Linked DNA regions of Homo sapiens. The protein of the gene in region 4 interacts with the protein of the main gene of each other region in a pairwise test. Each region holds a gene or a part of one and is shown on either strand. Other genes may lie near its edges.

The links.
Region 1: the proteins of CLN3 (region 4) and SBDS interact in a two-hybrid assay, tested with the Homo sapiens proteins (one study listed by BioGRID).
Region 2: the proteins of CLN3 (region 4) and CDHR3 interact in binary tests that used the Homo sapiens proteins (3 or more experiments, as listed by UniProt).
Region 3: the proteins of CLN3 (region 4) and KCNIP3 interact in a two-hybrid assay, tested with the Homo sapiens proteins (one study listed by BioGRID).

Annotation. Positions count from the first base shown.
Region 1 is NC_000007.14:66,987,168-66,992,604, forward strand, and holds the end of SBDS (ribosome maturation protein SBDS), read right to left. Parts: intron 4,135-5,437; coding exon 3,970-4,134; intron 1,333-3,969; coding exon 1,204-1,332; 3' UTR 513-1,203; downstream 1-512. UniProt on the Homo sapiens protein: Required for the assembly of mature ribosomes and ribosome biogenesis.
Region 2 is NC_000007.14:105,966,244-105,973,273, forward strand, and holds part of CDHR3 (cadherin-related family member 3 isoform 1 precursor), read left to right. Parts: intron 1-7,030. UniProt on the Homo sapiens protein: Cadherins are calcium-dependent cell adhesion proteins.
Region 3 is NC_000002.12:95,377,347-95,384,376, reverse strand, and holds part of KCNIP3 (calsenilin), read right to left. Parts: intron 2,782-7,030; coding exon 2,674-2,781; intron 2,001-2,673; coding exon 1,896-2,000; intron 1,146-1,895; coding exon 1,083-1,145; intron 376-1,082; coding exon 328-375; 3' UTR 1-327. UniProt on the Homo sapiens protein: Calcium-dependent transcriptional repressor that binds to the DRE element of genes including PDYN and FOS. Affinity for DNA is reduced upon binding to calcium and enhanced by binding to magnesium. Seems to be involved in nociception.
Region 4 is NC_000016.10:28,489,056-28,496,386, forward strand, and holds the start of CLN3 (battenin), read right to left. Parts: upstream 3,020-7,331; 5' UTR 2,965-3,019; exon of another isoform or gene 2,781-2,964; 5' UTR 2,705-2,780; coding exon 2,659-2,704; intron 2,506-2,658; coding exon 2,427-2,505; intron 332-2,426; coding exon 235-331; intron 1-234. Other genes in the region: APOBR (apolipoprotein B receptor), read left to right, coding at 5,627-5,683, 6,044-7,331.

The DNA.
Region 1 (5,437 bases), on a different chromosome or scaffold from region 4:
TTTTTTTGGAGACCGAGTTTCACTCTGTCACCTAGACTGGAGTGCAGTGGCACATTCTCAGCTCATTGCAACCTCTGCCTCCTGGGTTCAAGTGATTCTCCTGCTTCAGCCTCCCGAGTAGCTGGGACTACAGGCGTGCACCACCATGCCTGGCTAATTTTTGTATTTTTAGTAGAGACAGGGTTTCACCATGTGGGTCAGGCTGGTCTCAAACTCCTGACCTCAGGTGATCCGCCTGCCTCGGCCTCCCAAAGTGTTGGGATTGCAGGTGTGAGTCACCTCCCCTGGCCTTGAAGTAGATTTTTAAAAGCTTGCATCTTGTCCATTTAAGTGTTTAAATACTAAAATAATTCTTCCCAATTACATCCCAAGTGTTAGCAAAAATTTTTCAGGTGTTTACAAGTACAGGCCCTGTTCTAAGCACTCTTCATATGGACTTATTCAGTTCTCCTGACAACTCCCTAACCCTACCACAGACACAGGCAGAGAAAAGAAAGGGAGTTAGGAAGTTGTCTAGAAACACAAGCCATAGTTTAATAAACATAAGAGTGGTTTTATTGATTACATACAATTTTAGCTATATTAATATATATTATAAACTTTAAGAATTAGAAATAAGTGACTTTTATTTTTTAACCAAGAATAATCTAAGTTATGGCAGCATGTTCAATGAAAGGTAAGTCCGGCACAATTTTTCTATATCTGTTTCTCAGATAATCAGGAACATCATCCAAGCTTTACATTACGATACCATAATGACCCTCAGAACACAAGTTCCATTAAGTAGAAATGAAGCATCATATGTTTTCTTTTTTAGGAAAGACCCCCCCTTTTGTTGTATAGACATACCCCTAATAATCTTACTCTACTGTACAAATAACTTTTCACCCACAAGAGCTGCCTCAAGTAACTTTCATTTTGGAAAGCTATCAAGGCATGAGACAGAGTAGCAAAATGCCACTCTGGACTTTGCATCTTGGAGTTTCAATTTTGCTTTAGGATTTAGACCCCAGTTTATAATTAAAACCAAATCATTCCCACATTATTATACTTATGTAGGAAAGCCTTGCTGTGTCCACTGTTAACACAAAGATAGAAAATGTCAAATAGTTTAAGCAAGTATTTGGCAGACCACAGACATGAAACAGTGCCGTCGGAAACGGAAACACTTTAGTGTTTTAGAGGTGAAGAGATTGATGGGTGTCATTCAAATTTCTCATCTCCTTCTTCTACATCTTTCAGATTGAGTACTTCCAAAGAACCTTTGCCTTTAGTTTCCTTTTTTATTAGCTCATCAATTTCTCGGAAGCAGCCCGGGTCAATCAGACATACCTGAAACATTTAACGTAGCAGATTACCACATGAGGATGAGCAAGACACAGAATAAACTCAGCTTTAACTTCCTTTGAGGCAAGCACAATGCTGTCCAGATCTCTAATAATACCACAGTTCTATGGTGCAATAGATAAGACAATGGGTAGGGCGGCACACTGGGTTCCAGTTTAGCCTCTGCCCTCAAGTGTCCATGTAGCCCCCTGTGACAAGGCATTAATCCCTATGTTTAAACACTTATTCTGATTCTTCAGCTGTAAATGGAAGGGACAAACTAGAAAACTCTGATTCTTCTCATACTAAAATTTAGCATTACATTTTATAGCTCAGTAAAGTCACCTCCACGTATGAAGGAGAAAAAGCAATGTGAAGACTTATGTAGACACCATGTGTATGTTAATTTATTTTTTTTTGAGATAGAGTGCAGTGGTGTGATCTTGGCTCACTGCAGCCTCCGCCTCCCAGGTTCAAGTGATTCTCCTGCCTCAGCCTCCCAAGAAACTGGGATTACAGGAACCCACCACCACACCTGGCTTATTTTTTGTATTTTTAGTAGAGATAGGGTTTCACCATGTTATCTGCTCACCTTGGCCTCCCAAAGTGCTGGGATTACAGGCACGAGCCACTGTGCCTGGCCCATGTGTACAGTTTTGCAAAGATTTTAGAACTTCAAGTAGTGTCAGATGAGTTAGTTCACATCTACAGTGGATACTCACATACTCAACACTTCTCTACAGCTCATTTACTTTTAAAAAGAAGCTGCAGACAGGGCGCGGTGGCTCAAGCCTGTAATCCCAGCACTTTGGGAGGCCGAGGCGGGTGGATCACCTGAGGTCGGGAGTTCGAGACCAGCCTGACCAACATGGAGAGACCCCGTCTCTACTAAAAATACAAAATTAGCTGGGCGAGGTGGCACATGCCTGTAATCCCAGCTACTCGGGAGGCTGAGGCAGGAGAATCGCTTGAACCCGGGAGGCAGAGGTTGCAGTGAGCTGAGATCACGCCATTGCACTCTAGCTTGGGCAATAAGAGTGAAACCCTGTCTCAAAAATAAATAAATAAATAAATAAATAAATAAGCTGCAAAGCCTTGAAAACATGAATTTGTAGACAGCTCAATTTACACTGTGTTTGAAGCTGTGGGGTGAGGTCATAAGGACATAATGGTTTCGCTGCTTCTTTAAAATGTTCTGTGTTTAGTGTCACCAGGTTCACACACTAATATCCTCTGGAAACACCCTCACAGACATACCCCAAACAATGCTTTATCAGGCTTCTAGGGATTCCTTTCCAGTCAAGTTGACACCTAAAATTACATCCACAATTCCACCCCTTATCAACTTGGCACCCAGACTCATCTCTTTAAACCATTTTTAATTTTCAAATGAAGACAATAACAAGGTCCTAGCTTTTCCTCACATGATGCAATTAACCAGACGCGACTATCCTGCATACAACTCAAAGAGTGCTAATCCTTTTGCCAGAATTCAGCTTTCAGAATTTCATCATTCAGAATTCAATCTTTTTTTTTTTTTTTTGAGATGGAGTTTCGCTCTTGTTGCCCAGGCTGGAGTGCAATGGTGCAATCTTGGCTCACCGCAACCTCTGCCTTCCAGGTTCAAGTGATTCTCCTGCCTCAGCCTCCCGAGTAGCTGGGATTACAGGCATGTGCCACCACGCCAGACTATTTTGTATTTTTAGTAGAGACAGGGTTTCTCCATGTTGGTCAGACTGGTCTCGAACTCCCGACCTCAGGTGATCCACCTGCCTTGGCCTCCCAAAGTGCTGGGATTACAGGCATGAGCCACCGCGCCCAGCCAGGATTCAATCTTTTGGAACTGTGATTTTCAAGATATTAGAAGTTCAGGCTTTGGACTTTAGAGATTTTGATTTTTTTATGATTTCAACATTGGGATTGTGGCATTTGGGATTGTCTTTTAGGATTATGATCAGCACTGGAGTAAAGCATGCAATTGAGCTATCTCTGAAAACTCAATGTAAATTTCCATAGTGTGCTTTGTACTAATTTTTGCAAAATTTTTAAGGTAATTGGAATTATCAATCTTCCACTAAAATAGCAATTTTTAAGTGGCTTATTTTAAATAGTTGCTAAATTTGCTAAAATCATGTATCTAAAACACTACGCATAATATATGACAAAAATAAATGCTGGGAAAAAAATAAAAGGATTTGTGGTAAACAAGGCTGACCAACCTTTAGTCTTAAGAAAATATCTGGCTGGGCGCGGTGGCTCACGCCTGTAATCCCTGCACTTTGGGAGGCTGAGGCAGGTGGATCATGAGGTCAGGAGATCAAGACCGTCCTGGCTAACACGGTGAAACTCCGTCTCTACTAAAAAATACGAAAAATTAGCCAGGCTTGGTGGCGGGTGCCTGTAGTCCCAGCTACACAGGAGGCTGAGGCAGGAGAATGGCGTGTACCCGGGAGGCGGAGCTTGCAGTGAGCTGAGATAGCACCACTGCACTCCAGCCTGGGCAACAGAGCGAGACTCCATCTCAAAAAAAAAAAAGAAAAGAAAATATCTGACGTTTACAACATCTAAATGTTTGCTACAAATTTATTACTAGAGAATACAATATTTAGGTAACATGAAGCAAAGAAAATATTTGACTCTTACGATTTCTAACTGTTGGCCATAATCTTCACTTTCTATGACCTTGATCAGTGGCTTGAGCTTTTCTTTCAGCTTCTTGCCTTCATTGACTGGAAGGATGAACCGAAGCCTCATGTGAGCACGTTCTATCTTCATTTTCTCTTTTAACTGCTTTATCACTTCCAAAGCCTACCAAGACAAAATCGAGAATGCAATTTCTTCTACTATATTATTTCATAAGGTTTTCAAAAACAAAGTAGTTTCCATGTAGTTGGATTAGGTAATGGTTTCTTAGGTATAACATTAAGAACATAAGTGACCGTTAAAAAAAAAATAGAAAAATTGGACTTATCAAGAAGAAAAGCTTTTGTGTTTCAAAAAACTATGAAGAAAGTGAAGGCCAGGTGTGGTGGCTCACGCCTGTAATTCCAGCACTTTGGGAGGCCGAGGCGGGTGCATCACAAGGTCAGGAATTCGAGACCAGCCTGGCCAACATGGTGAAACCCCGTCTCCACTAAAAATACAAAAAAAGAAAAATTAGCCGGGTGTGGTAGTGCACGCCTGTAATCCCAGCTACTCAAGAGGCTGAGGCAGGAGAATTGCTTGAATCCGGGAGGCAGAGTTTGCAAAAAGAGGGCGGGGGGGGTGGGCAAAGAACCTGAACAGAGATTTCTCAAAAGAAGACAGACGAGGCACCAATAAGCACATGGAAATATGCTCAAATCATCATTAAGGAAATGCAAATCAAAACCACGACAAGATACCACCAGGATGGCCATCATCAAAAAGGCAGACAATGACAAGTATTACTGAGGATGTGGAGAAACTGAACTCTTAAACACTGATGGTGGTAAAGTAAAATGGTGCAGCTGTTTTAGAAATAGGTTTGGTAGTCACCAGGTATACAGAAATGAAAACATATGTCTACACAGAAACATACAAGAAATTTTATAGCAGCATTGCTCATCATAGCTCAAAAGTGAAAGCAACCCAATGTCTATCAACTGATAGATGAATGAACAAAATGTGTTTCTTTCCGTACAGTGGGCTATTATTCCGGCATAAAAAAGAAATGACATGCTGATGCAGGTTACAACATGTATGAACCATGAAAAGGCCACATATTGTATGATTCCATTTATATGAAATGTCCAGAATTGAGAAGTCCATAACGAGAGGAGATTAGTGGTTGGGAGGGGCCTGTGGGGGGAAAATGGGGGATGGCTACTAATGGATACTGACTTTCTTTTTGTGGTGATGAAAATGTTCTCGAACCAGGTAGCAGGGAAGGTTCCAAAACTTTGTTAATATACCACTTAAAGTGTACATACTTTATGAGTGTGAAATTTATGGTATGTGAATTATATATAAATTAAAAAATTCAAAAAGAAGTGTTAAAATGACCCTTTAAAAACTCAAGTTTTGTCTTTAAAAGTTTGATTTGGATAGGAAGAAGAAAGTCCTATATACATATTTGTGTTTACTTGAAAAA
Region 2 (7,030 bases), on a different chromosome or scaffold from region 4:
TTGAAGAAGCATCCAAGGAACCAGCTTTTGTATTACCCTCCTGGAAATGAAAAATGCCAGGGTATTTAATGAAAGAAGGGATCCTTGGGAGCCAGAAGATTCACATGGACATGAAAAGGTACCAAACCCATCCAACTGAGTTTGTCCGCAAGCTCTGGGCAAGAGGCAATCACAGCTTTCTTCAGCCCATCATCTGTGCGTGGTTCTCTGCTAGCCAGTGTTGGCAAATCAAACAAAGGCCCAAGACTGAGTTTCTTATTCTCCTTGGTAATTAAAATGTAAATGCTTCTTAATGCTCTCATCATATGAAAAGGCTGGAAGATGCAATCCATTTCTAGAAAGTCTTTCTGTCAGCCAATTAACCCTATGTATCAGGCCCAAAGAGTGTTGCAAGAGGTTTCTACTTTTTCCGTCATGTCACTTTCCTGTTCAGAGTCACCTCAGAAGAACAAAAGACAGTCCCTTCTCTCAGCTCTTCCTTGCCCATGGCAACCTCACCCCCAGTGCAAGCAGTCAGGCAGTCACTGGAATCCATCCACTTTCGCCTCCATGTAGTTGGAAGAGATTTGAAAGAAACAAGCCTTTCTCAGGCCCACCCCATAGTGATGCTCTAAGATAAACACGTCTGTTTCTTGCCAGTTATGACCTAGCTGGTGCAAAATTAATCTTGGTTTTTGCCATTGAAAGTAATGGTAAAAACCACAATTACTTTTTTTTTTTTATTATTATACTTTAAGTCCTAGGGTACAGGTGCACAATGTTCAGGTTTGTTACATATGTATACATGTGCCATGTTGGTGTGCTGCACTCATTAACTCATCATTTACATTAGGTATATCTCCTAATGCTATCCCTCCTCCTTCCCCTCACCCCATGACAGGCCCCAGTGTGTGATGTTCCCCTTCCTGTGTCCAAGTGTTCTCATTGTTCACTTCCCACTTATGAGTGAGAACGTGCAGTGTTTGGTTTTTTTGTCCTTGCGATAGTTTGCTAAGAATGATGGTTTCCAGCTTCATCCATGTCCCTGCAAAGGACATGAACTCATCCTTTTTTATGGCTGCATAGTATTCCATGGTGTATATGTGCCACATTTTCTTAATCCAGTCTATCATTGATGGACATTTGGGTTGGTTCCAAGTCTTTGCTATTGTGAATAGTGCCACAATAAACATACATGTGTATGTGTCTTTATAGCAGCATGATTTATAATCCTTTGGGTATAACCCAGTAATGGGATGGCTGGGTCCAATGGTATTTCTAGTTCTAGATCCTTGAGGAATCGCCACACTGACTTCCACAATGGTTGAACTAGTTTACAGTCCCACCAACAGCGTAAAAGCGTTCCTATTTCTCTGCATCCTCTCCAGCACCTGTTGTTTCCTGACTTTTTAATGATCACCATTCTAACTGGTGTAAGATGGTATCTCATTGTGGTTTTGATTTGCATTTCTCTGATGGCCAGTGATAATGAGCATTTTTTCATGTGTCTGTTGGCTGCATAAATGTCTTCTTTTGAGAAGTGTCTGTTCATATCCTTCACCCACTTTTTGATGGAGTTGTTTGATTTTTTCTTGTAAATTTGTTTTAGTTCTTTGTAGATTCTGGATATTAGCCCTTTGTCAGATGGGTAGATTGCAAAATTTTTCTCCTATTCTGTAGGTTGCCTGTTGACTCTGATGGTAGTTTCTTTTGCTGTGCAGAAGCTCTTTAGTTTAATTAGAACCGATTTGACAATTTTGCCTTATGTTGCCATTGCTTTTGGTGTTTTAGACATGAAGTCCTTGCCCATGCCTATGTCCTGAATGGTATTGCCTAGGTTTTCTTCTAGGGAAAAACCACAATTACTTTTACACCGACCTAATATAATGTACAGAATCACTAGTTGAATCACCTTTCCTTCTGTGTCCTATAAAGGGCTCTTTTCTGTTAATCTTGCTTGGCCTGGATTGTTCCTTGTTCCTCCCAAAAAAGGGGGTGGGTGAACATCTCATTCAGGAAGAGGTATATATTGTGGAAATTAAAGAAATAGGAAAAAGTTGCATATGTTGAAACAACATTTGACAATGCTTTATAGTTTACTGAGCATATGCATTTTCTTTTCTTTCTTTCTTTCTTTTTTTTATTTTTTATTTTTTTGAGATGGAGTCTTGCTTTGTTGCCCAGGCTGGAGTGCAGTGGCGTGATCTGGGCTCACTACAACCTCCACCTCCCAGTTCAAGTGATTCTCCTGCCTCAGCCTCCCAAGTAGCTGGGATTACAGGCAGCTGCCACCACACACTGCTAATTTTTGTATTTTTAATAGAGGTGGGGTTTCACCATGTCGGCCAGGCTAGTCTCAAACTCCGGACCTCAGGTGATCCACCTGGTTCGGCCTCCCAGAGTGCTGGGATTACAGGTTGAGCCACTGTGCCTGGCCGAGCATATGCATTTTCTTATGTGGCATCTGTGCTGTGAGAATAAGTTTCCATAGGCCTGATATTAGCCTGAATTTTTCTGCTGAAGTTCGTGAACCACACTGACCCCTAGTCAAGGCATGAAGCATGCTGATTAATAGTGTTGCTTTGGCTAGGTGCGGTGGCTCACGCCTGTAATCCCAGCACTTTGGGAGGCTGAGACGGGCAGATCATGAGGTCAGGAAATTGAGATCATCCTGGCTAACACGGTGAAACCCAGTCTCTACTAAAAATACAAAAAGTTAGCCAGGCGTGGTGGCGGGCACCTGTAGTCCCAGCTACTAGGGAGGCTGAGGCAGGAGAATGGCATGTACCCGGGAGGCGGAGCTTGCAGTGAGCAGAGATCGCGCCACTGCACTCCAGCCCGGGGGACAGAGCGAGACTCCGTCTCAAAATAAAAATAAAAATAAAAAAAGTGGGCCGGGCGTGGTGGCTCACGCCTGTAATCCCAGCACTTTGGGAGGCCGAGGCGGGCGGATCACGAGGTCAGGAGATCGAGACCATCCTGGCTAACACGGTGAAACCCCGTCTCTACTAAAAATACAAAAAAAAATTAGCCGGGCGAGGTGGCGGGCGCCTGTAGTCCCAGCTACTCGGGAGGCTGAGGCAGGAGAATGGCGTGAACCCCAGGGGGCGGAGCCTGCAGTGAGCCGAGATTGCGCCACTGCACTCCAGCCTGGGCGACAGCGAGACTCCGTCTCAAAAAAAAAAAAAAAAAAAAAAAGTGTTTCGTTGTAACCGTGGGTCCTAGGAGTTTCTGAATGGTTTGTAGCAGCTTGTAAGCGTTGTTTATTGATAACAGTGGGATTGATTATTTGCACCTGGTCTCAACGAGGACCTTCTGTGGGTTCTGCCGTTGAGGCCAGTTATAGAACAAGAATATGCCTACAGCAAAATAGAAAAAAATCCCAGTAAAGACTCCATAATTCCAAGATATTTGTGCATACATTGGCTGTTCCTGATCCAAGACAGTGCATTCTTCCGTCCCATAGAGAAAAGACAACAGTAAGAGCCTAGCCTGCACCTGGCCTCTGTGGATCTCCTGCTGAGGCAGCCTTCAGCTGTAGTGCATATCCTTACTTTCATGTTGTTGCTATGCTGTATCCGTTTTCTGTAATAAAACTGTAGATTTATAAGCATTGTCACTTGGGTCCCATGAGTCTTCTTTAGCAAAGGAACCCTGTTTAGTGGCTACTGTTAATGTAGCACCATAGCCCTGAGAGACAGAGTTGACAGGAACCCCCAGAGAAGTCAAGGGACCAGCCTAAGGTCACACAGTCAAGCAGTGGCAAAGCTAAGACTTGAAGCCAGGGGTCTGATTCCAAATCTCTCGTTCTTTTCACAGAACTGATTTTGTTCACTGCTGTTTGATTAGGTACTAGAGAGAATGAAGAGGTAGCTATTGAGTGATGGTCTCAGGGAGTCCTGCTCTGTGTATTGAAAGCAGAGCTCTAAGTTAGAGCAGCTACACCCCAAGAAGAAGATGGCATCACCCCACATTCTTGACCCGCATCTCCACTTTCAGTGTCAAAGGTCCAGGGTGGCCAACTTCCTCCTCTCTGAGACTGTGGAAGGCTTAATTATCCCAACATAGGCTCCCAGGGAAGCCCCATTGGTCCATTTCTGGAGAGGCAGTGATTCAAGGGAGACAAGTGAGCACATCCTGCATCCAGATCTTAGCCACAAGCAAGATGTTTCAGTGGGCGCCATGGCTGACAATAAATCTTTTGCATGCTCTTTCTTTTCCAAAGTACGTGCTTCAAGCAATTCTAATTTGATTCTTAATTAAGATGCATGTGTAAGTCAAATTCCATTAGAGCCTCCTTCTTGCTCTCTAGCACTCAGACCACCAAAGAAAGCCTGGAAGACCAGCCATGGAAGGAAAGTATGCGGTGTTTTAGGGAGAGCTGGCACCTGGCCTCTAATCTTCCCTCTGCCATTGACCAGATGGGTGCCTTTGGATACATCACTTAAGCTTACCTGTATAACAGATGGGTTTAACATTTTGTGAATATTGTATCTTATTCATTACTCTATTTTTAGGGTATGGACCCTAGTCACTTATTATCCTTGCTATTGCTATTATTACTACTACTACTTCTTTTACAAATAGCAATAGAGCTGGAGAAACCGGATTTTGAATTAAGGTCAGGAGAACCCAGCTTGGCTATCTTTTTAAAAAAATCAGTATCCCCAGCACTTTGGGAGGCCGAGGCAGGTGGATCACAAGGTCAGGAGATCAAGACCATCCTGGCTAACACGGTGAAACTCCGTCTCTACTAAAAATACAAAAAAATAGCCAGGCATGGTGGCAGGTGCCTGTGGTCCCAGCTGCTCAGGAGGCTGAGGCAGGAGAATGGCGTGAACCCGGGAGGCAGAGCTTGCAGTGAGCCAAGATCGCGCCACTGCATTCCAGCCTGGGAGACAGAGCGAGACTCCATTTCAAAAAAAAAAAAAAAAATCAGTATCCCTAGGACTGCCTAGGTCTGCCTCAAAGGACTGCCTAGGACTGCTAGGTCTGCCTAGGTCTGCCTCAAAGTTTTAAGGATTCATTTGCATGACCCTGGCACACACGGCCTTGCCCTGGGAAGAGAGGCCACCTGAAAAAATGTAGATCATTTCTAGCAAGAATATCGGCAGAAAGGGCATATCCAAGGACAGTCTGGCTTTCACCATACATGGGACAGGCGGTTCCCAATAAAAATTGCTTGAGAGTCACTGGCTATATCCACTTCTTCAAAAATATCTCTCACTGCCATTCAAAATATGACCATTCAAGGAGGACGATAAAAAACACTCTGATTTAAGGAGACATCATGGAGCTGTCCTTGGAGTCAGATGCCTAGGATTGGAATGCTGGATCTTTCATGGAATTAGTCTCTCAGACCCAGGAATTATCAAAGTTATGATCAATTCAAGAAAATCAGTGGATATACTTCTAGCAAAGCAAACCAGGAGCTATCAGCAGGCAATATTTGGGGAGCATGGCTTCTCTACAGTCCCCAGCTCCCCAAAGGAGCTGCACTAAGGTTGGGAGGCACAGTGATCTCTCCACTCGGGGTGAGGCTGTGGAGAGCCCTGAGTGGAGCTTAGCAAGTCCCTTCTACCTGAGCTCACACCACGCTCACACTCCAGCACAATTCTTCGTGTTGTTCCAGAAACAGCCTCTTACAAATCACATCATCAAGATCTAACATCCAGGTTAAAGGTCAATTTCTTACCAGCCCCCACAGCCATGTTGTTGCAGTGTCCCAGGGTGACTGAATAACTATGATGCATCCTATGTGCATGGTCATGTGACAGGCATGGAGTGACCGACTGTCTGTAGTAGGTATGTGTAGTCTGTTAGGTACAAGATCCAGATACCATGAGCCAGGGCCCTCCATGACTGTTCCCTGAGTGGTATAATCTCAGATGTGTGCAATGGTGACAGCAGTATAATCTCAGATGTGTGCAATGGTGACAGCAGTATAATCTCAGATGTGTACAATGGTGACAGCAATACCTATGTCGGAGGATTGTGCTGGGATTAAGGGGATCAGGCAGTCAAGGAGCTAGCATGATGCCAGCTGAGCAGGTGCTTGATAAATGAAATGGGTACTTATTTTAGTCTATTCGTTTGGGCTAGGCACGATCTTACCCTAGGCTATTATTGAGAAAAACATAGCAAGTTCTAACTTTGCTTGTTGCCTGGAGGGGCACGAGTCACTGGAGAGGGTTGGAGGGGGCAAGGGAAGAATATGGGTGAGAATGTGGGCATCCCATGAGACAGATTGCCAACTTTCCATTTCCTGTACAGCTGTCCTTGTCTTGCTAAACAGTGAGGGAACACTCTCATGAACAGCTCAGAGAGGTATGCATTTGCGAGAAAAGAGAATGGGAGGGAATTATGCCCCAAATACCCAACCCATCAAAGCAATAGAGTATTTTGCTCATTTTGAAAAACTGTTTTTGAGAGCTTTGTCTCTAAATACTCCAACCATACTCTTTCACTCCTGGTTTTTACCATAAGAATGCTATAATATCAAAGTCAATTGTAATAGATTTTTAAAAATCTATTCATATTCGCATCACCCTAAACTTCAGCTGTTTTGATATTTCTGAGTCCTTGCACAGTCCTTGTCCATAAAACTTGATAATTCTGCGAGCGACAATAACTTATGCATTATGCATTTTAGCCTCTAAACTAAATAAGATGACTTTAGATTTTAAAAGCTTGTATCAGTGAATGTGCTTATATTTCAATTTTTTCCTCTTTTCCATTTACTCCTCTGCACTCACCCCACCCCGCACCAACTGAAATAAAACATCCTGGTTTGTTTGTTCCTAGAACATTTATACCTTTCAGTGGGACAGAACCTTCTACTGTCCCTACCCACTCCGTGCCTCCTACTTGTTCAGGGTTTTCTTCTCAGGGTCTGATGGTGGCTGAGATTGGGAAGCTGGCTGGGAAGGGGGACCTGTGTAAATCTTGGCTCTGTTATTTATTATTTGCTGTGTGGATTTCAGCTCAGTTTCCCCATCTGTAAAATGACATTAATACCTGTCTGAGAGGAGTGTTTGAGGAGTAAGTGAAA
Region 3 (7,030 bases), on a different chromosome or scaffold from region 4:
GGTGACATCCAGCAGCTGGTGGCCTGCAGACCTGCTCTGTCAGCCACTCACCCAGAGGCAGCCTCGCCTCGCTGGCCTGGGAAGGGCTGGCTGGGGCTCCTGGACTCGGCCCCTAGCCAGACTCAGCCCCTCCCTGAACTCTGTCCCCTCTGCCAGCCCAGATGAATGGCTGTGTGTGTGTGTGTGTGTGTGTGTGTGTGTGTGTGTAGCAATCTGTTCACTTTTTGCAAATCTATTTTTTAAAAGTTTCTTGGAGGCTGCTCCTGGCAGGATGGAGGTTTCTTGGGGGTGGAGGTGGCTGTGGCCATGCACTCCTTTGGACGTGTCCTAGATGACATTCTCAAACAGCTGCATGGAGCTCATGATGTTCTCATCCTGCATGGAGAGAGGAAGGGAGGCCTTCAGGTGCTGGGTGGGCTCCAAATCCGACCCCCTTGAGCAGATTCCCGCCAGGGACTCGGAGCCTGCAGCGACTGCCTGTCTGTCTGTCTTATTGGGTGCAGGGAGCTGGGGGACAGGGAGGTGAAGTAGCTGGTCCGAGGTCCCCAGCTGGTGAGGCACAGCCTGTCTTCAACCCCACTCCTGACTGCAAGCCCATCTGGGATGAGCTGATGAAGGCGATCCCGGCTGGCCTCCAGAGGAGGTGGGCGCTAACCAGGACTGCTCTGGGAGTGGGGCAATAGAGGCGCTGGAGGCCCAGCATCCTGCCCCCTGAGGTGCTCTCTGGAAGGGCCAGCAGCAACACTGCGGAAGCTCTGGTGCCTCCCCACGGTGACCCTCTCCCTCTGGCTGGCCCCATGTCTGCCCCTAACTTGAGGTTCTCCAGGGACTGGGCTGAGGGAGGGTGTGGGGGTAGTGGGGGGATGCTGTGGGCTGCAGGGGTGGGTGGGGAGGAGGAGACTCAGACAAGAGGGCAAGTGGAGCTTGGGGCTGTCCAGGAGGTGGCAAGGGGCCAAGGACAGCTGCCACATCCTGGACTGGCAGGGGTGGGACTGGGGTGAGGGAAGGGGCAGACGCTGCCAACCACCCACCTCCGTGTAGAGCCTGCAGAGAACTGTGGCCCAGCCTCCCGTGCCACCTACCTTCTGACAGGCCTCCAGGAACTCTTCAATGGTCACTACCCCATCCTGGTTCCGGTCCATTTTCTGCAACCCAAGCCATGCCCAAAGTGAGTCTGTGCCCCAGCAGAGACAGCCCCGCCCCTGGCCTGAGGACGCAGAAGTCATGGGTGGGTGGATGGGCGGGTGGGTGGATGGGCGGGTGGGCTCCCTCCACTCTAACTTGTCCCCTGTGACTACTCTGGATCCAGGCCACATAATCCACCCTTCATAGCCACCTCCCAACCAACTGCTGAGGCTCCAAGCATCTCCCCACTGCTCCCCTAGGCCAATTCCCTGAGCCCTCCTGGGCTTGGGTTTCCCAGAATTTGTCCCCATGCTCATCTGACCGCCTCACCTCCCTGAGAGGCAGCCAGGGCAGAGGGAGCAACTGAGTCACAGGATGGCCCATGTCTAGTGGCCCCAGCAAGTAGGAGGCAAAGCCTGCAGCCCCTGCAGCCGCCATGCATACAGGTGAAGGCCCCCAACCTGCTCCTCTCCCAGAGCGTCTTCCTGGAGGAGCCACACAGCTCTCAGGAGGCATGGAGCTCCGGCCCAGGGTCAGCTGCCTCAGGATCCCCAGCTCTGGCCCCCAGATGAGGTCCACAGGGCAGAGCAGTGGTGTAGTTCACTTCTCAGGGGTTCTGACAACCAGCCAGACTGGAGGGGCAAGTTTAACCTCCTCATGGGGAGTAGGGAGGCTCAGAGGGGCAAGCCACTTGCCCGGGGTGGCCCCAAAAGCGAGAGCCCCTTCCTCTGCCAGGCTCCCCTCCCTAGGCAGGGCTGGCGCTCGCTCACCTCGAAGAACCTCTCCACGTGCTCCGCCGGCGCGTCCTCCCGCAGGATGGGGTAGGTGTGGCGGCCCATCATGTCATAGATGGACTTCATGATGGCCAGCATCTCCTGGAGGGGGAGGCTGGCATGAGCCTGCTGCAAGGCCGGGGTGGCTGTGAGGGCCCAAAGGGAGCGGGCGGCATCCAAGGGTGCAGGGCACCTCCAAGGCAGTGAGTGCGAGGGGCCGGACGAGCTGGAGAGAGAAGCCTGTCCGCTTCCAGGGCACCCAGAGCGAGCTTCTGACTCTAGGGGAAGCTCATCTCCCAGAGAAGTGGGAGATGGATTGCTATGTGCTTATCTCCAAAATGTGACGCGGCAGCAGAAAAAGTGCTTGGACCAAACAAAACCTGTCTGTGGGCCCATGTGCGAGGGCTCCCCTCTCCACCCATGCCTTAAGGGACCGCACTGCCCCCTTCACTTGATGGGGGCCAAGGCCAGGACCTCTGGCTTCTCCACTTAAATCTCCCCGAGGCCTTTTGTGTAAGACAGTATGACCGAGAACACTTGCTGAGCTGGACCGAGATGTGTGGTACAGGGTACCTGAACCCACACTCCACACCGGGGTGTCCAGGACCGAGCCCAGGAGAGGAGAGCCCACTGGCTGCTGTCCCTGGGGCCAGTCTCTGGATGGACAGCGGGAGAAGACAGGTGGGCAGCAGGAGCAGGGAGAGGAAGAGCGGCGGGAGGGGTGGAGCAGCAGGAGGGGAGGAGGGGACAATCCCTGCCCCCAGCCCCCTACTACCTCTTTGGTGATGTAGCCATCCTTGTTAATGTCGTAGAGATTAAAGGCCCACTTGAGCTTCTCGTGGACTGTGCCCCGCAGCAGGATGGAGAGGCCAACCACAAAGTCCTATGGGGAAAGGAGAGTGTGGGGCGTGACATCCAATCAATGCCCAGGTTCTAGTTCCAGTTGCTGTGTGGCTTCCACTGAAATTCACGCCTCCAACAGGCACAGAGCCTCCCTAAGAGACTGACGGCATCCATTCAGGTCAGCACAGGGTGAGTGTGTGCCCGTGTGTGAGCGCATGCACGGGTGTGCACCTGTGTGTGTGAACTTGTGTGAGGGTGTGCACCTGTGTGAGAACTTGTGTGAGGGTGTGCACCTGTGTGAGGGTGTGCATCTGTATGTGTGAACCTGTGAGGGTGTGCACCTGTGTGTGCACCTGTGTGAGTGTGTGAACCTGTGTGAGTGCATGCGCATGTGTCTGCATGTGTGGCAGGAGTGGCATGGTAGCTGATACTGATGCCAGAGAAAGATATTCAAATATATATGGTGTCCTAGACCCATTTAATGCAGTGCTGCCGCTGGAGACGCCTGGGGTACTCTTTTAATAAAGGAGGTGCTCTATGTTTATTCTGCCAAGCATCTGCATGGCAAAGGTGCTTGAAAACTTCCAGATTAAATAGCTAGAGGAATGATGCTCAGCTTTTTGTTTGTTGTTGTTTTTAGAGACAGAGTCTCAGACTGTCACCAGTCGCCATCATGGCTCACTGCAGTCCCAAACTCCCAGGCTCAAGCGATCCTCCACCTCAGCCTCCTGAGTAGCTGGGACCACTCGGAATAATCCATGCCTGGCTAATTTATTTTATACTTATAGAGATGGGGTCTCGCTATGTTGTCCAGGCTGGTCTCCAACTCCTGGCCCCAAGTAATCCTCCTACCTTGGGCTTCAGAAGTGCTGGGATTACAGGTGTAATCCCAGGGCCACCTCGCCCAAACCTGGTGCTCAACTCTTGAGTCATGACATGCTGTGTGTGGCCATCGCCTTTGGCATGGGAAACTTTACTACTAATATGACAGAATATGGCTGTTTAAATGGTTTCCATGTGACAACTTCAACTGTTTTGTTACAGCAGTTGGTAGAAAGCAGGTTTTCCCCCTACCTCTTGGAAGGTTTAAAGGTGAAACCCTCCCTGCACCCTGGGGTCCTCCCAGGCTACTCTGAAAGAAAGGGGTGAGAAAGGGGCTGTACCAGCGAAGTGGGACAGAGGACGGTCAGAGTGCAAGGGACAGGGCCATGCACCAAGGCCCCGAGGCCCCTCAAGTGTTAGATTTTCGGGACTGGAAGAAGTCTGTACCATGAGAGAGACAGAGACAGAGGAAAGCGATTTGGAAGAACAAAAATTATCCCAGGAGAAAAAAATTTGACAACAACTATTAGGTTCAGAGATTACAAATCTTCCATCACTAAAATAAGAATAGGATGTCCCAAAAAAGAGGTAACTGGAAAAAAGAAAGAGCTCTTGGAAATTAAAAATAAGAAAGCAAAATGACAGACTTAAAAAGAAAGGTTGGGAGAGCAAATGGAATCTTCCATGAAGTGGAATGAGAAGGCAAATAGCTGGAATATAGGGGAGAACAGAGGATAATGAGAGTTGCACTCCAGAGGGGCCAATGCTGGGACACAGGCAGTTCGGGAAGAACGGGAGAAAACAGAGGAAAGTGGGTAGGAGCAATCAGGAAAGACGATTTCCCAGAATGGAAGCAGAGATTTCCAGTGTCCACCAAGGCTTGGCACAATGCATGAAAACAGCCTGCAGTTTAGCTGCAAGCATAGATCATGGTGAAATTTCAGCAAATTGGGTGCAGAGGATCCTATAAACTTTCAGAGAGGAAAGCAAAGCCAAACAGAAAAAGCAAAATCGGGACCCATCACGGGTCAGTGTCAGCAGGGGCACCTGCTCTGCAGCAGCGCCTGAGGCAGGAGGCCCAGGGAACGAAGCGACCCCCAACTTTGAAGGAGAACAGCTCCCCCTGGGGGTGCTGGTCCCTACAATGGATCAAGCAAGAGTAAAAACAGAATAAAGACACTCCCAGGTGCTCAAACGCTCCAAAGTTACAGCTCACATCCTCTTTTATAGGAAGCAGCTGGGCAGTAAGCCCCTGAACACACAGAGAGTAAAGCAAGAGAAAGGCAGATCAGGGATCCCAGAACCAGAAGGCCCAGCCCAGCAGACAGGGGAGGAAGCCCCAGAGGCACCAGGCCCCAGCGAGGATGGAGCTGTGGGAGGCTGGTGGGGGGGCCTCCTCTGGCAGATGCCGGGCAACAGGTTCAGATGACTGGAGAAGGGCCTGGGCTTGAATGAATAATGAGGTCACAGAACACAGACAAACTAATCATCAGGACCAATGTTAACCGTAGGCAAAGGAAAGGAAAAGATCATCGCAATGGACAACAAGCCTCAGCGAGGGGTCCAGTTCACAAATCAGAGTAAACCAAGGCCTTATCCAACCTGAAGCCTAGAGTCTGTTGGAAAGCTGAACTCCTGGGCTCAAGCGATCCTCCCACCTCAGCCTCCTGGGGGATGGGTGGGGGGCTGGGGGGACGGGAACGTTGTATGTCTGAGGGAGTCCCAAATTCTCACTTGTGGCAGGGGGTGGAAAAGTGGAAGCAAGCTTCTGGGGGACATGGAAACAAGCACAGGTGACTGGCTACAGCAGACAAGGTGGTGGTCACCTGCTGGTTTTCCAACGTGCACCCTGCGAATGTGTTGGACTCCAGTCATGTGTGTGTATAACTGAAGACAATGAATATATATATATATATGTGTGTGTGTGTATATATATGTGTGTGTGTGTATATATGTGTATATATATGTGTATATAAATATGTGTGTATATATGTGTGTGTGTGTGTATATATATATATGTGTGTGTGTGTGTGTATATATATATATATTTTGTTTTTGTTTTTGAGATTGAGTCTCACTCTGTCACCCAGGCTGGATGGAGTACAGTGGTGCAATCTCAGCTCACTGCAACCTCTGACTCCTGGGCTCAAAGTGATTCACTTGCCTCAGCCTCCCAAGCAGCTGGAATTATAGGCACCCGCCACCATGCCCAGCTAATTTTTTTTTTTTTTTTGTATTTTTAGTAGAGACGGGGTTTCGCTATGTTGGCCAGGCTTGTCTCAAACTCCTGACCTCAGGTGATCTGACCGCCTTGGCCTCTCAAAGTGCTGGGATTGCAGGCGTGAGCCACCGAGCCCGGCCAATGAAAATATTTTAAAGAAGCAACACCCAGGTGTGGTGGCTCACACCTGCAATTCCAGCACTTTGGGAGGCTGAGACAGGAGAATTGCTTGAGGCCAGGATTTCAAGACTAGCCTGGACAACATAGTGAGACCTTGCATCTACAACAATTAAAATAAAAAAATTAGCTGGGCATGGTGGCATGCACCCGCAGTCCCAGGTACTCGGGAGGCTGGGGTAGGAGGATCACTTGAGGCCAGGAGGTCGAGGCTGCAATGAGCTATGGTGGTGCCACTGCACTCCAGCCTGTCTAAAAATAAAACAAAAAAAATAAAAATTAAAAAACAAGGAGAAACATTGTTATATTTCTACTATGCCCAAGTTTAGGGAATAATAATCACTGAAGCTTGGGCATGGTTTACACAGTAGTGAAGATTCTAAGTTATCCCTGAAGCCCTGGGTCAGACAGGCCTTCCTAGTGGGTAGCAAAGGCGTGGAGCACACCGTTCTCCTGGGGACCCTGGGCAGGCACCGCTGTCCTCCACCTTATCTTCAGCTGACATGGGCCCCTCAGGTGGTCTGTCTGTCTGCTGCGGAGAAGCCCTCATGTTCAGCCACAGAGCCTGCTGCTAGCAGCTGAGGAATGTCCCTATGCAGTATCCCTTAGCCTCTCTCTGTGTGTTGGCTACAGTAGTGACAGTACTAGGAGATGGTGGGAATGTCCTGTTAGGCCACTGGCTAGTCTCCATTCATAAAGGTAATACACAGATGACCCCAAGTCCAGCCAGCCCATGTCTGAGTGCACGCTGGTTCTAAATTCCTTGGCCATACACAGTGCAACCATGGCAAGTTGTAACTCCATGCTCTGAATGCCAAAGTGTAGGAACCCTGTCACATCCACAGCCTCTGTTCTACGGCTGTCCCCATGGCAGGGGCTAGGCAGGGTGAGGGCTCCAGTGACACAGCATACTTCCAGGTGAAGGTGCACAAGAGTGCACAGGAGGGTCTCCCGGCAGAGCCCGGAGCAGGTGCTCAGCGAGGGGGTGGGAGTCGCATGTGGTTGCTGGGCTTGCAGGCTGCCCTCACACGGCCCTGGATGCCGCTTGGCCACTGGCACATGGAGCAGT
Region 4 (7,331 bases):
CACACCCAGGTAGTTTTTGTATTTTTAGTAGAGTCGGAGTTTCACCATGTTGGCCAGGCTGGTCTCGAACTCCTGACTTCAAGTGATCCGCCCGCCTCAGCCTCCCAAACTGCTGGGATTACAGGTGTGAGCCACTGTGCCCAGCCAGAGACTGGAAACTTTACCCCACCTTGTCCCACCCCCTCATCTTCCCACAGGGACTAACCATGGTGGTGGTGGTAGAGAGTCACTTACATGGCTCTGGTTTCCCGATGTCCTCTTGTGGCTAAGGATGTCGTGGGCGGCACTCAGCATCACCACATAAGAGAAGTTGTTGCAAAGGCCCAGCAGCCTGGAAGGAGCAGGACAGGTCTCAACTCCCTCCTCATCCTGCAGCCATCTGTAGCCTTTGTGCCAAACCTTCCCTTACCTGTGCCCTTCAATCAGCCCCCTCTTTTTTTTCCCTCTATCACCAGATCCCATCCTCATTCAATGTTGGGGTCAAAAATACAGGCTTTGGTGCTTGGGCAAGATAGTGAGACCCCCATCTCTACAAAAAATTTAAAAATTAGCCAGGTGTGGTGGCTTGCACTGTAGTCCCAGCTACTTGGGAGGCTGAGGTGGGAGGATTGCTTGAGTCCAGGAGTCAGAGGCTGCAGTGAACTGTGATCATGCCACTGCACTCTAGCCTGGGTGACAGAGCAAGACCCTGTCACAAAAATAAAAAATAAAAAGGAAGAGGCCGAGTGCAGTGGCTCACACCTGTAATTCCAGCACTTTGAGGGGCCGAGGCGGGCGGATCGCCTGAGGTCAGGAGTTCGAGACCAGCCTGAGCAATATGGAGAAACCCCGTCTCTACTAAAAAATACAAAATTAGCTGGGCGAAGTTGCACATGCCTGTAATCCTAGCTACTCAGGAGGCTGAGGCAGGAGAACCACTTGAACCCGAAAGGCGGAGGTTGCAGTAAGCCGAGATTGTGCCATTGCACTCCAGCCTGGGCTACAAGAGCGAGACTCTATCTCAAAAAAAAAAAAAAAAAAGGAGAGTGGTCACAGAGAGTTTCTGGGAGAGGCCTTGGAGGCTGGAAGTGAATCCAAGTCTGTGATCCCAAAGCCCCTATGTCAGGGCGGGGCACGGTGGCTCACGCCTGTAATCCCAGCACTTTGGGAAGTGGAGGCAAGCGGATCACCTAAGGTCAGGAGTTCTAGACCAGCCTGACCAACATGGTGAAATCCTGTCTTTACTAAAAATACAAAAAATTAGCTGTGTCTGGTGGCACGCACCTGTAATCCCAGCTACTCGGGGAGCTGAGACAGGAGAATAGCTTGAACCTTGGAGGTGGAGGTTTCAGTGAGCCGAGATTGTGCCACTGCTCTCCAGCCTGGGTGATAGAGTGAGACTCTGTCTCAAAAATAAAATAAAATTAAAAAAAAAAAAAAAAAAAGCTGGGCGCGGTGGCTCACACCTGTAATCCCAGCACTTTGGGAGGCCGAGGCGGGCGGATCACGAGGTCAGGAGATCGAGACCATCCTGGATAACGCGGTGAAACCCCATCTCTACTAAAAATACAAAAAAATAGCCGGGCGTGGTGGCAGGCGCCTGTAGTCTCAGCTACTCCGGAGGCTGAGGCAAAAGAATGGTGTGAACCTGGGAGGCGGAGTTTGCAGTGAGCCGAGATTGCGCCACTGCACTCCAGCCTGGAGGACAGAGAGAGACTCCGTCTCAAAAAAAAAAAAAAAAAAAAAGGTTCAGGCCCGGCATGGTGGCTCATGCTTGTAATCTCAGCACTTTGGAAGGTTGAGGTAGGAGGATCACTTGAGGCCACGAGTTTGAGACCAGCCCAGGTCCCATAGTGAGACCCCCATCTCTATAAAAAAATATAAAAATTAGGCAGATGCGGTGGTGCACACCTGTAGCCACACCTACTTGGAGGCTGAGGTGGGAGAATCACTTGAGCCCAGGAGTTCCAGGCTGCAGGGAGCTGTGATTGCACTACTGCATTCCAACCTGGGAAACAGAGCAAGACCCTGTCTCAAAAAGAAAAAAAAATAAGATAAAATAAAATAAATTAAAAAAATAAAAAAGTTTTAGTAGTGATGCATTTATTTAAACGTTCACTAGGAAAACGCTGGTTTTCCAAGTGGAGTCGTGATTTAAAGTTTTCTTTTTAAAAATATGTGCACTAAAAAACGTTAAGGCTGAATTGGCTGGAAGAAAAAAGTAAATAATCCTACAGGTGGTAGGTATGAGGATCTTGCTAAATCCGGAAGGTGATAAGGAGTGAAGTTTGGAAATTTTACATGCTGCCCCTGGGGCAAACCAGTGGATTCAGTAAATATTTGTGGGTTCAGCTCCTTTGCGCAGCTTAACTCTTTCTTCCCCCTTTCCTCCGGTCACTTCCCTCTTCTCATGCCATTGTCACTCGCTGAAGTCTCAGGCCACTCACCAGAAGCCCACCGCGTTCTTCCAATGCGCGCCCTGATGGTCCAACAGAGGGAGCCGGGGCTCCGGGACGGTCTCCTCCCCTGGGAGAGCGAGAAGAGGGCATGACCCCCACCTACTCTCAGGTGCACGACCGCTCCTTGCGTGTCCTCCCGGGGCCGAGTCAGCTCTCATTCCCCTCAGGTGGGCTGCGAGCCAGAGGTGGTCGTTCCATGAGGGTGGGCGGGAATACTCACCCTCGGAATCCGAAAAGCGCCGCCGCGAGCCTGCACAGCCTCCCATCGCATCAAGTTCAGGTCCCCCGAGGGTCCAGGGTCATAGAGTGTCCAAAGGGGGCTCCCACGGGAGGGATGAGGGTCTGCGACAGGTGACAAGGATCAACGCCCGATTGCCGGTCCCAGCTCCGGCTTGTCTAGGGCACTCGCGCCCCGCGATCCATCAAGGAAGCTGGGGGCTCCATCTCGAGCGCCCTACGACCCACCACGCCCCACCCATCGTACTCTCCCCCGCCCCGTCTACAGCAGGGACCCTGAGGCCTGTACCTTTAAGAGCAGCAGAATGTTCTGCACTATGCAGAGGCCGTTTGTCGGATCACGTGACAGCACCCGCGTGTTCCCCCATCACGTGCTCAGAGGTTTTCCCTACTTCCGGGTCCTCTCTGTCTTCGCTTTGGGCCTTCTCGGCTTCGGAGCGTGAAAAAGGGAGGGGCTGGAGAACCCTGGAACCGCAGGTTTTAAACTGGAGCGGGTGGGAGCAGCAAGCAGAGCCGTGACCTTAGATCAGTGGCGCCCAAGACCGAGACAGTAGCCTGCCAGCACCAGTTATGACTGTGGGAGGCTTCAGCTCCTTTCCTTCAGCACTCACTTGCCAGAAACAAATATGGCCACCTGCCTACTCCCTTTTTTTTTTTTTTTTTTTTGAGGCAGGACTGTTTCTGGTTGCGAACAAAGACGACCAGCTTCAGGTCATTCTTATCCCCATCTGTTGACCTTACAAATTGTTTTAGAGACCTAAGTAAACATAACACTCATCTAAAGGGATTTCGTGAATGATCTATTGGCAGTATCCAAGATGTTAAGAGATCCCTATTTCCAAATTATCCTAGAACCAAAAAATATCACAGCACTTCAACCCCTGGTGTTACAGATGAGAAAACCAAGGTACAAATATATATATATATATATATAACAAAATTAGCCGGGCATGGTGGCGCATTCCTGTAGTCACAGGTACCTTGGAAGCTGAGGTGGGAGGATCACTTGTGCCCAGGAGGTTGAAGCTACAGTGAGCTATGATCACGCCACTGCACTCCAGCCTGGGTGACAGAGTGAGATCCTGTCTCAAAAAAAGAAAAAGTAAAAAATAAAATAAAAAAAATATATGTATATGAAAAAAATTGGAAAGTTGCTGACAATCATTCATACAATGTTAGACCTAAAGGTGACCTTAGAGACCTGTATGGTGATAAGAAATAGAGCACCAGAGGCAGGGAGCCATTGGGTTGGCTCCAGGCTGCTGCAGGATTCCTGCCTCCATCAAAGGTGGTGCTTAGACCAGATTTTTTTTTTTTTTTTGACAGGGTTTTGCTCTGTTGCCCAGGCTGGAGTGCAGTGGCAGGATCTTGGTTTGCTGCAACCTTGACCTCCCAGGCTCAGGTGATCCTCCCACCTCAGCCTCCCGAGTAGCTGGGACAGCAGGTGCGCACCACTGTGCCCAGCTAATTTTTGTGTTTTTTGTAGAGACTGGATTTTGCCACGTTGCCCAGGGTGGCCTCAAACTCCTGAGCTCAAGCAATCCACCTGCCTTGGCTTCCCAAAGTGCTAGGACTACAGGCGTGAGCCACTGCACCTGGCCAGACTAAATGATTTTAAGGCCTAAGATTCTGATGCTGTGATTTCATAGAATTGCCCTAATTGGAATAGGAAAGTGGGGCTGGGGAGGGGAGAAGGAGGGTATGGGGAAGAGAAGTAGAGCAAGGTCACTTTATGTAGTTCCAAATAAGGAATCATACCCTTACCTTCTTCTAGGTGGAAAGCGGCATCCTGCATTCTCTTCTTGTCCTTGGCCTCATCTCTGCTATGGGCTGTGCCACCTCTATATGCTCTTTCTCACCACCAGGCCTTCAGAATGCAGTTGGAAATGTGCCCTCTCGTCTGGGTGTGGTGGCTCATGCCTGTCATCCCAGCACTTTGGGAGGCCAAGGTGGGCAGATCACCTGAGGTCAGGAGTTCGAAACCAGCCTGGCTAACATGGTGAAACCCTGTCTCTACTAAAGATACAAAAATTAACCAGGTGTGGTGGCACGCACCTGTAATCCCAGCTACTCGGGAGGCTGAGGCAGGAGAATCACTTGAACCCAGGAGGCAGAGGTTGCAGTGAGCTGAGACTGCGCCACTACACTCCAGCCTGGGTGACAGAGTGAGACTGTCTCAAAAAAAAAAAGAAAAGAAAAGAAAAGAAATGTGCCCTCTCTAGTGTGCCTCCCAGGTCACTCAGCTGATGGAAAATGGAATCCTACTAACGTGCAGGGCTCTAGAAATTCAGCAGCGTTTCATACATGGCATCTGCCATCAAGGAAGTCACAGGAAGGTGGGAGGCAGACACAGATATCCACAATATAAAGTTTAGCCAAGTTCTTTTTTGCAAGCCTAATCATAGGTGAGGGGATGCACCCCAGAGCCACCAATCCGGCCCCTTCCGCCCCTGGGGGAAGCATTAATGACGCCGAAATGTGTCAGAGCTCCCACCAGCCCCCTCTTCACTGCTACTCTTTCTTCCCAGGCAAAACAGGAACCACAAACCCCAGCTTCCTCTTGCAGAGTGGCTGTGGCTTGTAGGGGAGGCAGAAATGGCTGAGGTGCGGATACGAGACCTGAGTCACTTGAGCTGCTGTTGCCACATGTCCCCTCCCTCTCCCCCTCCCCAGTTCTAAGGTCTCCTGCTCCCACTTTGTCCTTTCTGGCCTCTTGCTTGTCCTTTATTTCCAAATGTGCACCTGAGTCCCCTGTGTGATGTACACCCATTTCCCGGGCTGCAGTGGGGGCTACTGTGGGCATCAGGGGCCGTGGGCAGGGCCTGGGGTGGGGACGCATCAGGGAGACAGGGGAAGAGGAAGTGCCTTTGGTCCTGGGGAAGGTTGGCTTGTCTTGGTGGGTGGGGACGGTCATTATCAGCTTTCTGGACACACAGACAGAGACAGACAGGATGGACTTCCTCCGGCTATACCTCCCTGGGCTGCACCAGGCCTTGAGGGGGGCACTGGTGAGAAGGGCAGACAGCTGCCAGATACTTGCACCCCATTCCCTGGGGCCTCACTTCCGGGCACCTCCCCTGGGGCCTCACCTTTCCCCTCCTCCTTCTGATCTCCTCAAACTGGAGATTGCTTTCTCAGGTTCAGGCAGACTCCTGGCCTAATATTTTCTGAATTTCAGTCCCCACCTCCAACCATGCGTCCTCGTACCCCTAATCGATGCCCCTTCTGGCTCCTTCTGCAAATCCTCTTCTTCTCCTTTCAGATCCCAGTACCCTCTTCCTTAACCTGGGCTCCTCCAGCCAGGGCCCCCAGGGAAAGGGCTGGGACTCTCCTCAATGACTCTCCCCTCTCTCTCTCTTTTTTCCTAGGATTCCCTCGGCACCTTTGTCTCCTACCTCCTGGGAGATGCAGTCCCCACTGTAGAGCGGGAGGCGCAGGCGGCTGAGGAACTGGGGGTGGTGGCGGTGGGAAAGACAGGGAAGATTGTAGAGGAGGAAGCCCAGGAGGACCTGGAGGGCCTTAGAGGCAGCCAAAACGAGGGGGCTGGAAGGCTGAGAGGGCCTGGAGATGACAGAAGACATGAAGTGGGGAGCTCAGCTGTAGAACAGACCTGGGGCTGGGGAGATGGCAGCTCCCATGGGTCCCAAGCAGAGAGGCAGGACAGTGGGGCTGGGGAGACAGCCAAGGCTGCCAGGTGCCAGGAGCCAAGCGCCCACTTGGAGGCCAGAAAGAAATCCAAGGCAGGGTCTGGGGCTTGCCAAGACAGGAGCGGCCAAGCCCAGGAGAGGCAGGAGTCCCATGAGCAGGAAGTGAACAGAGAAGAGAGGCTGAGAAGCTGGGAACAGGAGGAGGAGGAGGAAGAGGTCAGGGCAAGAGAGCCAGGGATGGCCAGAGGGGCGGAGTCAGAGTGGACCTGGCATGGGGAGACGGAGGGGAAGGCTGGTGCTGTTGGGCCAAAGGCGGCAGGGGACAACCGGGAGATGGAGCAGGGGGTCAGGGAGGCAGATGCAGGGGAAACTGAGGAGCCTGGGGCCGAAGGGGCTGGGAAAGGAGAAGAGGTGGTAGTGGTGGAGAAGGCCTGTGAAAGCACTAGGGCATGGGGGACGTGGGGCCCAGGGGCAGAGCCTGAGGACTGGGGAATCTTAGGCAGAGAGGAGGCCAGGACAACCCCAGGTAGGGAAGAGGCCAGGGCAATTTTAGATGGGGAGGAAGCCAGGACAATCTCAGGCGGGGAGGAGGCTGAGACAGCCTCAGGCGGGGAGGAGGCTGAAACAGCCTCAGGCGGGGAGGAGGCCGGGACAGCCTCGGGAGGGGAGGAGGCCGGGATAGCCTCAGGCGGGGAGGCTGGGACAGCCTCAGGAGGGGAGGAGGCCGGGACAGCCTCAGGAGGGGAGGAGGCCGGGACAGCCTCAGGAGGGGACGAGGCCTGGACAACCTCAGGCAAAGAGGAGGCTGACCTGCTGGGAGTCAGACAGACAGAATATGGAGCAGTCCCAGGAGAAAGGCTCCTAGAGGCTACTGGAAAAGTCTGGGTCCTAGAGGAGGAGGGGGATGAGGAGAGAGAGGCTGAGGTGAGCCCTTTCCCCAAACAGCCCCAGGTCCTGGGCACTGAAAGAACAGAAGAGGCTGCTGAGAGCCAGACCGCAGGGAGGGAAG